2 separate regions of the Homo sapiens genome follow, and region 2 is linked to region 1. A link means that fine-mapping ties the variant in region 1 to the expression of a gene that starts in the linked region. Tissue or cell type: whole blood. Region 1 holds a variant in brackets; the other region holds the start of a gene. All regions are shown on one strand. Distances are from middle to middle.

The links. PIP is the estimated chance that this variant, and not a neighbour inherited with it, causes the effect.
Region 2: it holds the start of FCHO1, and the variant in region 1 is fine-mapped to the expression of FCHO1 in whole blood (TOPMed, PIP above 0.99).

What each region holds. Positions count from the first base shown.
Region 1 is chr19:17,768,032-17,775,763 of GRCh38, reverse strand. FCHO1 (FCH and mu domain containing endocytic adaptor 1) reads right to left here. Exons shown (of 29, transcript NM_015122.3): 8 at 5,187-5,339; 9 at 4,868-4,972; 10 at 3,209-3,307; 11 at 3,023-3,119; 12 at 1,481-1,525; 13 at 1,286-1,370; 14 at 684-708; 15 at 251-308. Among named protein-coding and RNA genes, the nearest start is that of FCHO1, 20 kb to the right of the region's middle. The variant T/C (reference allele first, on the strand shown) is at 4,025.
Region 2 is chr19:17,747,341-17,753,824 of GRCh38, reverse strand. It overlaps FCHO1 (FCH and mu domain containing endocytic adaptor 1), which reads right to left and starts at 2,348. Exons shown (of 29, transcript NM_015122.3): 1 at 2,248-2,348. It overlaps FCHO1-AS1 (FCHO1 antisense RNA 1), which reads left to right and starts at 2,428. Exons shown (of 5, transcript XR_007067152.1): 1 at 2,428-2,609; 2 at 3,075-3,167; 3 at 4,462-4,542. RefSeq lists an enhancer at 1-190 and a silencer at 5,876-6,295.

The DNA.
Region 1 (7,732 bases):
CTATTCGGCTGCAAAACCCCAACACTGGTGCCCCCTCCTCCAGGAAGCCCTGCTAGATCTCCTTTTCTCTCTCCCTCTTGCCCAGTGCTGACCCCATAGAGTGGGTGTTTACATTTAGGTTGGCTTCATCCACAAAGGAGACTCTCTCCAGGATGTACACAGAGAGGACTGCTGAAGGTGGACTGGTTATTACGGAGAATTTTGTCCTTGCTGTGCCAACAACTGCCCCCAGGGGGTGCCAGAAGGATATTGTTCTGGGTCACATCAGGCCGGACAGTGAAACCTTCTTCATCCACCTCTGGACATGTCTAGGGGAGTCAGGGGGCAGCAGTGAGTCAGGCGCCCCACTATCGAACCTTCCATCTCACCCTGCCAACCGCCCCCCGCCCTGCCCCCAGGCCTTGACTCAGACCTCAAAACCAACCCTGATGGCAACGACTGTCTTCCCTGGGTGTGTGGGCAGGTTCCTGGGACAAACTGAGCTTCGGCAGGGACATTATTCACACCCACGTAGTCCATGGGACTTTGCAGCTGAGGTGGGATATGAACCCAGCCCCCAGGCTCCAGCCCGCCCCTCAATCTCGGCTCTTTAGTTTCCAGTAGGGATCGGGACTCTAGGAGCCAAGAGTGGGATCAAACTCCTTCCACTTGTAGCCCAGCCTGACCCCTCCCACATCACTCACCCCTGAATCGGGCTCCAGGAAATCTCTGGGGATGGAGGAAGAGATGTTGGTGTCAGCTTCCGCAGCCCATCTGGTGCCCCCTGTCAGCCCCCAACACTGGACATGGAAGCTGGGGCAGCTCCCAGACTGTGATACTGCCCTGAGCTAGCCCTAGAGGCGGTGGGACCATGGGGCTTGCTTGGGGAGGGGGTTGAATCTGAAGTTAGCTGAGTAGAGAGTGTTCTCAAACAGCCTGGGAGGGAAGGAATCCTGGAACTCATTTGAAGGGCTGCCTTGTGAAGATAGGGAAAGTCGGGGCTAGCCTTGGCAAACAGAACAATCCTGGGCCAGCTTGGGCAGGGAAGATGCTACGTTACTCTGGGACAGGCAATTCCTGGCCTAACCTAGCAAAAGGAAGAATTCTGGACTAGCTTGGGCAGCGGTAATATTGAGCTAGCCGGGGGCAGAGGTACTCCTGGTCTAGCTCAGGTAGAGGGAATCCTGGTCCAGCCTGGAATATGGATACTCCTGGGCTATCCTAGGAGGGGACTTCTGGGATAGCCTGGGCAGGGGAGGGGATCTCGGTCTAGCCTGGGCCAGACCGGGCAGGGGTGCTTCCTCACACAGCTGCAGGTGGCTCTGGCTCCCGCTCCCGCCGGCTTAGTCCTGGAAGGCGAAAGGCCTTGGCTCCCCGCAAACGTTTCATCGCTGAGGATAGATTGGGGGGCACCTGAGCACTGTGAGCCTCCTTTCACATTCAGATCAGCCTCCCTCACCCCCATGGTCCAGCCTGGGCATCCAGGCCCAGACGTACTTGCCTTCCTGCAGGGCAGCCGCACTGTATGCCTCGAAGTCCAGAGGTCCTGAGACAGGAGACGGAAACTCAATTGAGGGGCTGGGCACGGTGGCCCATGCCTGTAATCCCAGCACTTTGGGAGGCTAAGGCGGGCGGATCACCTGAGGTCAGGAGTTCAAGACCAGCCTGGCCACCATGGTGAAACCCTGTCTCTGCTAAAATTACAAAAAAGCCGGACATGGTGGCAGGCGCCTGTAATCCCAGCTACTGGGGAGGCTGAGGCAGGAGAATCGCTTGAACCCAGGAGGCGGAGGTTGCAGTGAGCCGAGACTGCACCACTGCACTCCAGCCTGGGTGACAGAGCAAGACTCTGCCTCAAAAAAATTAAAAAAAAAAAAAAAAGAGAGAGAGAGAGAGAAAGAAACTAAATTGAGGGTGGGGAGACTGCGCTTGGAAAGGGTAGTACACTTTTGGCCACAAAATGGCACCTGGATCTGAACTCAAGGTCCATCAGGTTCCCGGACAAGAACCAGCCCCACATCATCAGAAGTGGGATGGACCAAGGGGCTGGTCTGGTTCCAGCAGGGCAGTGCCACCGCAGGGGGTGACATGAGCTACTTCTACATACTTCCAGCATTTGTGGCTGGAACTTGGGTTGGGTCGGGGAATGGACCATGCGTCTGTGCAGTGGGCTGGGCTTTGAGTGACAGGATAAGGAGTGGGAACTCTCTCCCAAGAACAATGGGGAGCCATGGAAGGTGTGTGAGCAGGAGGAGGACAAAACAGATCTGGGGCCTGTGAAGGGCAAGAGTGGGGCCCCATGCAGGGAGGGGAGACCTGAGCCAGGCCTGAGCCAGAGCGACAGGAGGGAGAAAGAACAGGTTTTGCTAGTTAACAAGACTTGAGGACGTAACTGTATACCAGCATTTAGTGAGTGCCTACTGTGTGCCTGGCACACCCTTTGCCCTTTACCTGCATGAAATCACTGAATGTTGCAACATTATTACATCCTCACTTTACAGATGAGGAAACTGAGGCTCAGAGAAGTCAAAGCACAGGTCCTAGGTCACACAGCAAGCGATGAAGAAAAGACTCAAACCCACGTCTCACTCTAAAACTTTTGCTCTTAACTCCTTCCCAGTCCTGCATCTGCGCATTCCCAAATTGTTCTTTTGCTCAACAACCCTCAATGGCTCCCTTAGGCCCTGGGGGTGAAGTCTGATCAGCCAAGCCTGGCATTCAAGGCTCCTCTGGGATCTGGTTCAAAGACATTTACACATAAGATCAGGCTGGAGAGCTGGACTTGTCAGCAGCCCATTTTTCCCATGAAGAAACCAAGGCCTGGCCATGTGCAGTGGCTCACGCCTGTAATCCCAGCACTTTGGGAGGCCGAGGCAGGCAGATCACCTGAGGTCAAGAGTTCGAGACCAGCCTGGCCAACATGGTGAAACCTCGTCTCTATTAAAAATAAAAAAATAAAAAAAAAATTAGCTGGGCATGGTGGCACATGCCTGTCTGCAGCTGTGGCCCCGAAGCCCGACCCCCAATGGCTGCCCTGACTCACCAGGCTTCTCCCGGCCTGTGCCCTTACTCTCTGCAAACTTCCTGAGTAGCATCTCCACGCTGACGTTCTCGATGTTCTGCTTAAATTCCTCATGCACCTGTGCCGGGTGGGCGGGGTGTGTAACTGGTCAAGGCCCCTTTGCCCAGCAGTGACCCCAGCCTCATTCCTCACACCTGCCCAACTCACCTGCCCAATCTGCACGTGCGTGTCCTCCACCGAGTGAGCATATGAGCCCAGCAGTGCCTTCATGTGCCTCAGGTGTGTCTCCTCCATGGCTTGGAAGCGCTGAAGCAGGAGGGCAGAGGCAGGTGGAAAGGAGGTCAGGGCCAAGAAGAAGTGGCCATATGACTCAGCCTGACCAATCAGAATACCCTAAGCCCTTGGCTCAGTGATTGATTTGGGGAAGGGCCAATGAGAGTCTGCCCTAGGACTTTCATTGACTCTACAGGAAAAGGCACTTCCATTCCTGAGCCAATGTGCTGATGGGATGTAAGTGGGGGTTGCTGGTGCCCAGTTTGATGCACACATGTGCATGCTTGCACACACATGCACACACACACACACACAAGGGGATGTCTGTGTGGGAGTGATGTCCCCAGAGAGAAAAACAGACTTAAGAAGCAGAAATAGTGGTCAGCTGTGGTGTATCATGCCTGTAATCCCAGCACTTTGGGAGGCCAAGGCAGGTGGATCATCTGAGGTCAGGAATTCAAGACCAGTCTGGGCAACATGGTGAAACCGTTTCTACTAAAAATACAAAAATTAGCTGGGTGTGGTGGCACGTGCCTGTAATCCCAACTACTAGGGAGGCTGAGGCAGGAGAATCACTTGAGCCCAGGAGGCGGAGGTTGCAGTGAGCTGAGATCACGCCACTGCACTCCAGCCTGAGTGACAGAGAGATCCCATCTCAAAAAAATAAAAGAAGCAGAAATTCACAATTTCCTGCCAGCACTATTTGAGCACATGGATTCAGCTATGACTGAAACCTCCACAACTCAAAAA[T/C]AAAACTTTACAGTTCCCTGAGCTTGTCAGTTTTTTTAAATTTTATTTTTTATTTTATTTTTTATTTTTTTGAGACAGAGTCTCGCTCTGTCGCCCAGGCTGGAGTGCAGTGGCGCAATCTCGGCTCACTGCAAGCTCCGCCTCCTGGGTTCTCGCCATTCTCCGGCCTCAGCCTCCTGAGCAGCTGGGACTACAGGCACCCACCACCACGCCCGGCTAATTTTTTTGTATTTTTAGTAGAGAGGGGGTTTCACCGTGTTAGCCAGGATAGTCTCGATCTCCTGACCTCGTGATCCACCTGCCTCGGCCTCCCAAAGTGCTGGGATTACAGGCATGAGCCACCGCGCCCAGCCTTTTTCTTTTCTTTTCTTTTTTTTTTTTATATACACCTGTCGGTTTGAATGAAGGCTTCTATCACTTGTAACTTGAAAAAAGTTCTGATTCCTAATCCTCAGATTCCAATCTGCTTGAATTTATTTTATTTTTTCGAGACAGGGTTCCACTCTATCACCTAACCTGGAGTACAATGGCTCGATCTTGGCTCACTGCAACCTCCGCCTTCTGGTTCAAGTGATTCTCCCGCCTCAGCCTCCTGAGTAGCTGGGATTACAGGCACCTGCCACTACGCCCGGCTAATTTTGTATTTTTAGTAGAGACAGGCTTTCGCCATGTTGGCCAGGCTGGTCTCAAACTCCTGACCTCAGGTGATCCTCCCGCCTCGGCCTCCCAAAGTGCTGGGATTACAGGTGTGAGCCACCACACCCTGCCTGGGATTTCTGCAGTCCATAACCTCCAGGGCAAAGGCATGTGTGGGTCTTAAAGGTACAGATGCCTGGTTCTTACCAGGGCTGAGTCCAGCATCTTCTGCTCAAAGTCAGCTCGGGCTGAGTTGTATTTTTCCACTGAGCGCCGCAGGCTCTCTGCCGCCTTCTTGGTTTTAGTCTCCGCCTACAAAGCACAGGGAGGAAACGGGGATGGGAGGGCGATACTCAGGGGGCCTCCCCCAGGCCCCATCACCTGGCAGGTGAACTCCTCGGGGTACCCAGGGTGTGATCACCCACAGGTTCCAGGACCGTCGCTCTGGGATGTGTTTCCACTCTCTGATCAGGCAGCCCCTCCGCCCCGCGGCAAATTCCTCAGAACCCCCCCACTGTGAGCCCACCTTGTCCATCTCCTTCTGGCTGGTACTCTCCCTCCGCAGCCGCTCCTGGTCCATGCAACGGTTCAGGTAGTTCTCGCGGGACTTGGGCAGGAGCTGGCTGACGCCCGAGAGTACCTGCACAGCATCCAAGGTGCTCACCACTTCCTCCTTGCACTGCGGGGTAGGAGGGGATTTCATGGGTAGACTGTGAAATTCCTGACCTCCCAAACACTCCACGTGATGTCAGCTCCACAGTCTTTTTCTATGTGTGTGTGTGTGTTTTGGTTTGGTTTTTTTTAGACAGAGTTTCGCTCTTGTTGTCCAGGCTGGAGTGCAGTGGCACGATCTCGACTCACTGCAATCTCTGCCTCCCGGTTTCAAGCAATTCTCCTGCCTCAGCCTCCCAAGTAGCTGAGATTACAGGTGCTCACCATCACACCCAGATAATTTTTTGTATTTTTAGTGGAGACGGGGTTTCACCATGTTGGCCAGGCTGGTCTCTAACTCCTGACCTCAGGTGATCTGCCCACCTTGGCCTCCCAAAGTGCTGGCATTACAGGTGTGAGCCACCACGCCCGGCCTCTGTGTGTGTGTTTTAATAGCAATGGGGTCTTGCTATGTTGCCCAGGCTGGTCTCAAACTCCTACACTCAAGCAATCCACCTGCCTCAGCCTCCCAAAGTGTTGGGATTACAGGTGTGAGCCACTACGCCCGGCCTGTACGTTTTTCATTTCAAAACATTTTTAACTTTAAAAAAAAGTACTATTTACACATGGTTCATATTTCAGAAAGTTGTAAGAGGTAAGCCAGGAAAAAGCCTCCCATATATGGGCCCTCCAGCCTAGAAGTCCCCAATTATTACTGTGATACTTCTCTAGAAATAATCCGCATATGGATAAAGATGCTTGTTCTAACCCAAGTTTTATGACAAACAGTGGCAGACTGTGTTGCTTAACTCACCGTTTTGTGTGTGTGTGTGTGTGTGTGTGTGTGTGTGTGTGTGTGTGTGTGTGTGTGTTTGAGACGAAGTCTCGCTGTGTCACCCAGGCTGGAGTGCAGTGGCGCGATCTTGGCTCACTGCAAGCTCCGCCTCCCGGGTTCACGCCATTCTCCTGCCTCAGCCTCCTGAGTAGCTGAGACTACAGGCGCCGCCACCACGCCCGGCTAATTTTTCTTTTGTATTTTTAGTAGAGACGGGGTTTCACCGTGTTAGTCAGGATGGTCTCGATCTCCTGACCTCGTGATCTGCCTGCCTCGGACTCCCAAAGTGCTGGGATTACAGGCTTGAGCCACCGTGCCAGGCCTTTTTTTTTTTTTTTTTTTTGAGGCGGAGTCTTGCTCTTTCACCCAGGCTGGAGTGCAGTGGCACAATCTCAGCTCCCTGCAACCTCCGCCTCCCGGGTTTAAGCGATTCTCCTGCCTCAGCCTCCCAAGTAGCTGGGATTACAAGCATGCACCACCATGCCCGGCTAATTTTGTATTTTTAGTAGAGACAGGGTTTCACCATTTTGGCCAGGCTGGTCTTGAACTCCCGACTTCAGGTGATCTGCCCGCCTCAGCCTCCCAAAGTGCTGGGATTACAGACATAAGTCACTGTGCCCAGCTTTTTTTTTTAAGAGATGGGGTCTCACTGTGTTGCCCAAACTGGTCTCTAACTCTTAGGCTCAAGCAATTCTCACACCTCAGCTCAGCCTCCCAAGTAGCTGGGACTACAGGCATGCACACCACGCCTGGCCTGCTTTTACCACTTAAAAATTCACTCCTGGCCAGGCACAGTGACCCATGCCTGTAATGCCAACATTTTGGAAGGCTGAGGCAGATATGTTAGATGTTTGACCAGCCTGGGCAACACAGCAGGACCCCTTCTCTCTCTCCTTTTTTTTTTTTTTGCCTTGTTTTGTTTTTGAGACAGAGTCTCACTCTGTTGCCCGGGCTGGAGTGGTGTGTCGCGATCTCAACTGACTGCAACCTCCACCTCCCAGGCTCAAGTCATTCTCCTGTCTCAGCCTCCTGAGTAGCTGGGATTACAGGTGTGTGTGCCACCACGTCTGGCTAATTTTTGTGTTTTTAGTATAGACAGGGTTTCACCATGTTGGCCAGGCTGGTCTGGAACTCCTGACTTCAAGTGATATGCCTGCCTCAACTTCCCAAAGTGCTGGGATTACAGGCATGAGCCATCGCTCCTGGCTAGCAAGATCCCTTCTATACAAAAAATTTAAAAATCAGCAAAGCCAGGCGCGGTGGCTCACACCTGTAATCCCAACACTTTGGAAGGCTGAGGCGGGCAGATCACCTGAGGTCAGGAATTCAAGACCAGCCTGGCCAACATGGTGAAACACTGTCTCTACTAAAAATACAAAAAATTAGCCAGGCGTGCACCAGCACACCTGTAATCCCAACTACCTGGGAGGCTGAGGCAGGAGAATTGCTTGAACCCAAGAGATGGAGATTGCAGTGAGCTGAGATTGTGCACACTGCACTCCAGCCTGGGCAACAGAGCAAGTCTCCATCTCAAAAAAACAAAACAAAACAAAACAAAAACAAAGTATTACCAACCCCCTTTTTAA
Region 2 (6,484 bases), 21 kb after region 1:
TGTGGTGGCGGGCACCTGTAATCCCAGCTACTTGGGAGGCTGAGACAGGAGAATCGCTTGAACCTGGGAGGCGGAGGTTGCAGTGAGCTGAGATGGCGCCACTGCACTCCAGCCTGGGCGACAGAGTAAGACCCTGTCTCAAAAAGAAAGAAAGTTAGTTAGTTTAATTGGACCCATTATCATTGAGCCTCCAATCCCGGGACTTCTGTGAGTCACCCAAGACCTCCTACTTGCTCACCCAGACTAGAACAATGTCAGGGTCCCTGAGTTGATTCAGCCTCGGGCCTGGCCCTGCAGGAGTCCCCAGTCTAGAGAGACAGAGCTGGACACAGATATCACCGTCCTGCATGGTCAGGGCTGGGCCAGATGGAGGGACAAGGTCCAAAAGAACCTGGACTAAAGGAGGGCTCATGGGAGTTGGGGTTTTAAAGCATGAATAGGAGTTCACTGGGCAAGGAATTATTTGTTTCAACAAACATTCCCAACCCTGCACTGGTTAATGACAGGGCCCCTGAAAAACTTCAGTCCCCACCACACCCCCTTAGGAAACCTAGTTTGGTGGCAGGGGTAGGGTGGTGAGCATGCTACACTGACATCCCTAGGGGAAAAGCCCTAAATTTCCATATCATTTCTTAGCTTCTGTCCATGACCAGGACCCTAAGCATCTCCAAATCTCTTAGAGCTGTGCTGACTGGCATGGGAACCACTAGCCCCATGTGGTGACTTAATTTTTTTTTTTTTTGGAGACAGGGTCTCGCTCTGTTGCCCAGGCTGGAGTGCAGTGGTGCGATCATAGCTCACTGCAGCCTCCACCTCCCAGGCTCAAGGGAGCCTTGAATAGTAGCCTCCCGAGTAGCTGAGACTACAGGCTCACGCCTGAATAATTTTTGTATTAAGTTTTTTTTATTTTTTTATTTTTTCTGGAGACAGGTTCTTGCTCTGTCACCCAGGCTGGAGTGTGCAGTGGCATGATCACAGCTCATGGCAGCCTCGACTTCCCAGGCTCAAGTGATCCTCCCATCTCAGCCACCCGAGTAGCTGGGACTACATGTCTAACTAATTAAAAATAAATTTTTTTTTTTTTTTTTGTAGAGACTAGGTCTCACTAGTGTGGCCCAGGCCAGTCTCGAACTCCTGAGCTCAAGCCATCCTCCTGCCTGGGACCCCCAAAGTGCTGGGATTACAGCCATGAGCCACAACCCCTGGCCTTAATTTTTGTATTAATTTTTGTATTAATGTTAAACCAAGTAAAATTAAATACAATTGGCTGGGCGCAGTGGCTCACGCCTGTAATCCCAGCACTTTGGGAGGCCGAGGTGGGTGGATCACTTGAGGTCAGGAGTTCGAGACCTGCCTGGCCAACATGGTGAAACCCCATCTCTACCAAAAAATATAAAAATCAGCAGGGCGTGGTGGCACACACCTGTAGTCCCAGCTACTTGGGAGGATGAGGCAGGAGAATCACTTGAACCTGGGAGGCGGAGGTTGTAGTGAGCCAAGATTGCCCCACTGCACTCCAACCTGGTTGAAAGAGTGAGATTCTGTCTTAAAAAAATAATAATTAAATACATACATACATACATACATACATACATACAATTATATGCCCAGCTCCTCAGCTGTGCCAGCCTCTCTTCCAAGGCTCAGTAGCTACATGGGGCTGATGGCTGCTGTATTGGATGGCCAACATTGTTCTAGAAGATCCCAGGAACCAAGGAGCCCAAGTTCCCCAGAAACCAAGAATCTCACTACTGTTTTCACAGTTTCAATTAGATTGCCTCACCCCACCTCTGGCAGACAGATACACATGGAGCACCAGTATGTGTGCGACCCTGTACCCAACTATTCACACGCATCTGCTCATCCAATCTTCATGCCATGCCCTCAGAGGCAACCCCAACTTTATGAAGGAAACCGAGGCACAGAGAGATCAATCATTGGTCCCGGCTGACTGTGATTTTGCCCCTGGTCTGTCTGCCAATGACCTCCTGTTTGAAACCATCACGCGTGGCTCTCTGGGTTTCCAAGCTCCCCTTGCCGCCCCCCTAACCCAAACCACCACTCACAGCTGGAATGGGGGACGGGGGGCAGGGCAACGGGTGGCCCCATGCAGGCTTTGGCCAGCCCAGGAAGTGACACCTGCTACTTCTCCTGAAACCCAGGCTCCGGGCAGGGGGGCCTCCCCTCTGTTCCTGAGGGGGGCCAAGGCGAGATGATGGGTATCTACTGGCCAGGGCTCAAACTCACCGGACAGGGTAGCGAGTGGGATGGGGCCCCTGTCTGACGGGGCAGGCGCCAGGAGACAGCCACGAGGCCACTTCCGTCAGCACCAAGTTGGAGGCTTGTGTGCATGGGTTGGGGGGGGGACAGGAAGCTCACCCCGCCCCGCCTACCATCCAACCGCCACCTTTCCTCCCCCGCCCGATCAGCACCCATGGGACCTCCCTGGAACCACACAGGCCATGGGTGAGTAAACAAGAGGCGCTTGAACCTGGAGCCCCCCGGCCTGAACCTGGAGCTGTTCTTACCGAACAAATATTAATCATGGCAATTGGGAAATAACTGAGCACCAACCCTGGCCCAGGCATTCAACATCTTGCCATCCTGAGGTAGGCCGATACCCACTTCACAGACTGGGCAAACTGAGGCTCAGAGAGGGAAATGCGCTCAGAAAGGGGAAGACATGGCCAGGCGCGGTGGCTCACGCCTGTAATCCCAGCACTTTGAGAGGCCAAGGTGGGTGGATCACGAGGTCAAGAGGTTGACACTATCCTGGCCAACACGGTGAAACCCCGTCTCTACTAAAAATACAAAAATTAGCTGGGCGTGGTGGCCCATGCCTGTAGTCCCAGCTACTCAGGAGGCTGAGGCAGGAGAATCACTTGAACCCGGGAGGTGGAGGTTGCAGTGAGCCAGAGGTTGCAGTGAGCCGAGATTGCGCCACTGCACTCCAGCCTGGCGACAGAGCGAGACTCCATCTCAAAAAAAAAAAAAAAAGAAAAGAAAGGGGAAGACATTTTTGCATTCATGAGCGCTTTCCTTCACTACAAAAGAAATTTAAAATTATATTTTAGGTGGTGGCTGATGCCTGGAATCCCAGCACTTTGGGAGGCCGAGGCAGGTGGATTGCTTGAGCCCAGGAGTGCGAGAACAGCCTGGGCAACATGGTAAAACCCCGTCTCTACTAAAAATACAAAAGTTAGCTGGGTGGGGTGGCATATGCCTGTAATCCCAGCTACTCGGGAGGCTGAGGCAGGAGAATCGCTTGAACCCAGGAGATGGAGGTTGCAGTGAGCGGAGATCGAGCCACTGCACTCCAGCCTGGGTGACAGAGAGAGACTCTGTCTCAAAAACAAAACAAAACAAAACTGTATTTTACAACTACATTGACATAAAGACAAATATATTAATATTATACACAAAAATGTTTCCTTCAACCCAAGAGTTCATTTTTTTCCCTTTGGATTTTAAAAGAAGTGAAAACATCAACCTAGGGACCCCTAAAAGCACTGTGAGCCTGAGACACTGGGCATTTTGGGTCTGATGGAGAAGTCAGCCCTGCTAGAACCCAAGTCTCCCAGCCTGTACAGTACCAGCACAAAGCCCAGAGATGGCCGGAGACTTGCCCAAGGTTACACAGCACATTGCCAGCTGACTCAGAGGTCCCCATCCTGCCTTCCCGGCACCAAGTCTTGCAAACCTGGGGCTGAGACATGTGAGCAGCCCCAGAACAGATAAAACAAAGCAGGAACCACATCAGCAACAAAGGCAAGACCCGAGCTCCCATCCTGGGAATCGAGTGGTGCCTGGCTGGGTGTCCGGAGCCGCTGACGTCTTGCCTGATGACCTTGGGCCACTCCTGACCTTCCACGATCTGGCTTCCAGGATCCTGGGAAACAGGATCTCACATTTCCCTCTCTCTTGGACCCCAGTGTATGTACAGTAGGGCCAGTAGCAAGGGTTTTCTCATCCTTCCCACGGACCAGTCACTTGGTTCAAGCAGGTACCATGCTGTTTCAATGACCCACTATGTCATGTCTCCCCTCTTGGCCTCGCCACCTGGGCTGCGATCACAGACAATCTGGCTTGATTCTCGTCACCACACCTCAAGGCAGTATCTTATCTCAACCAGCACCACGATGGGGAAACTGAGACACGTGCCCCAGGTCACACAGTGACTCGGGCCACCAAGTGGGAATCTGAGCCAGGGATTCTCAGAAATTTTCTGTCCTCCCCATGGGTCCCCTCCCTCTTCCTCACTTCATTTGGCAAACATCTATTGAATGCCTACTGTGTACCCAACTTTCCCAGGTGCTGGAGTCTCCTCAGGCAATGCCTTTGATAGACTCCCCCTTCCCCTCCCTCCTCCTGGTCAGCTGTGACCCGATTTAAAGAGCACTAATACTGTCATTAATATTATAATAATCATGTCTGTATTTACAGAGCTTCCTCCTCCCACAGACTCCTCCCATCTTCCCAGAGGAATTCAGCCCATTTCACAGAAGAACAAACAAAGGCACCAAGGGAAAAACACACACACAGGTAGAGGCAAATTCAAACCTGGGGGTGTCAGACTCCCAGCCCCATGCCCACCACTGGGAGGGCGCTCCAAGGGACAGGGAATGAGCTGGCCTGGCAACTCCCACCCCCTCCTGCCCAGGACCTCGCCCGAGAACAGGTTCACCCCTGGCGTGGGTGATGGTATGTGGGTCAGGGTGTGCCCTAAGTGGCCCCAATGGTGAGACCAGGGTGGCGATGCCCCATCCCAGCCATTGCAGCTTGGTCCTATGTTTTACTCCCTGTCCCCATGCCCTCAGCCCCAATATCAGAGTGTCATCATCAACCCATTTTGCAGTGCAGTAAACTGAGGCTGAGAGGATAGCAAGGCACTGTGGGAGGGTCTCCAAACCCAATGCTGTCTTGACCCCAAACCACCCACATGTTAAGCAAAAGAGTGAATCACCATTGGACAAAATGTGGGCTGGGTGAGTTCAGAATCTGTAAAATGCAGGGTCCGAAGCTCCCAACCTCAATTTTCAAAAGAGGAAACCGAGGTTCAGAAAGGTGCTGTCACCTGCCCAAGGTCACCAGTGAAGCAGGTCCATTCGACACTGCCTCCTGGTCCCCAGTGCAGCTGGGGCAGGTGACTCGGGGGATCCAAGGCAGATGGAGGGGTCCCCCACCCCCCAAGCCTCCTCCGCACCCCACTCACAGCCAGCCTCTGGCAAGATCCTAATTTACCTCGATTTATTTTAATCCCCAGAAACAGATGCTAGCTGTACACCCCGCCCCTCAGTAAAAGAGGGACCCCCCCCCCAAGTCCAGGCTCCAGGCCCTTCAAGGCCTGGCCTGGATAAACCGTGCCAGGCAGGGGACCCCACAGTGACCTCCTCCCCAAAATTCCAACCTTGGGGTCCCCACAGAAGATGCCAGTGAAACGCCCCCCACCCCATCCTTAAGGTGGAGGACTGGGATGGGGCAGATTAGAGGAGGGGCCAGGTGACACCCCAGCTCCTCCAGCCACCAGGCCTGGATAGGGGTTCACAGTGGAGGAAAAGGGAAGGGGTCCCTCGTCTCGGTCCCCGGTGGTCTGCAGGCCGGAGCTGGGAAGAGGGAATCTGCGGGTGGTCCCCATCTCAGCCACCGCCCAGGGTTCCAGGCTGGAAGGGGAGCGGCGCCCCCATCTTTGCAGCCCCAGAACCCAGACCTAGGCTTAGAATAAAAGAATTTGGGGAGGGGTCTCGCGTCGTCGCCGCCCCCGTGCACGCTCGGTTCTAGGCCAGGAGACGGGGGATTTGGGGAGCGGTCCCCATTTTCGCCTGCGGACCCCCAATTACCACTTGGAGGGGGAAGCCGGGGCGCCCACCGCGTAGCCCCAACCCCCTGCTCTCCATCCCTCGCGTCCCGCCGCGCCTTTGCCCTCCGCAGCCGCCGGGGCTGCAGGGCACGGTGCGCGTGGGAGGCTGCGCGGGCCAGGGTATCCCAGGGGGTTCCGGGGGGCAACACTCACCTCCTGAGCTCGGGCCGAGCCCCGCGCTCGCCGCCACCTGCGGCTTGGTCGCTGACACCGGAGCCCGCCCCGCCCCTCCCTCCGCGGCTGCGGCGCGGCTGCCGGCGGGCTCCGCCCCCGGGGCGTGGCCTAGAAAGTCCCCACCCCCGCGACGGCGCCAGGAGGCAGGGCGGGCTCTGATCCCGCGCGGCCCCCCATTGGGCCATTTAGGCGCCCAGCTCCGCCAGCTCAGCGCGCTGATTGGTCCAGCCGAAGACTAGGCTCCTTTTTATGTTCCCCCCCTTACGCCACCCGCAGTCTATTTGCATAATTTAAAGAGACAGGCGCCACTCTTTCGCCCTGAGACTCAGTGGTAAGGAGTAAGGAGCGACCAACGTTTATTGAGCGAACAGGCAGGGCTCAGTTGATGACCCCCCACAAGCCTGTAACCTGGACATTATTGGTCTTTATTTTACAAATGGGAAATCTGAGGCT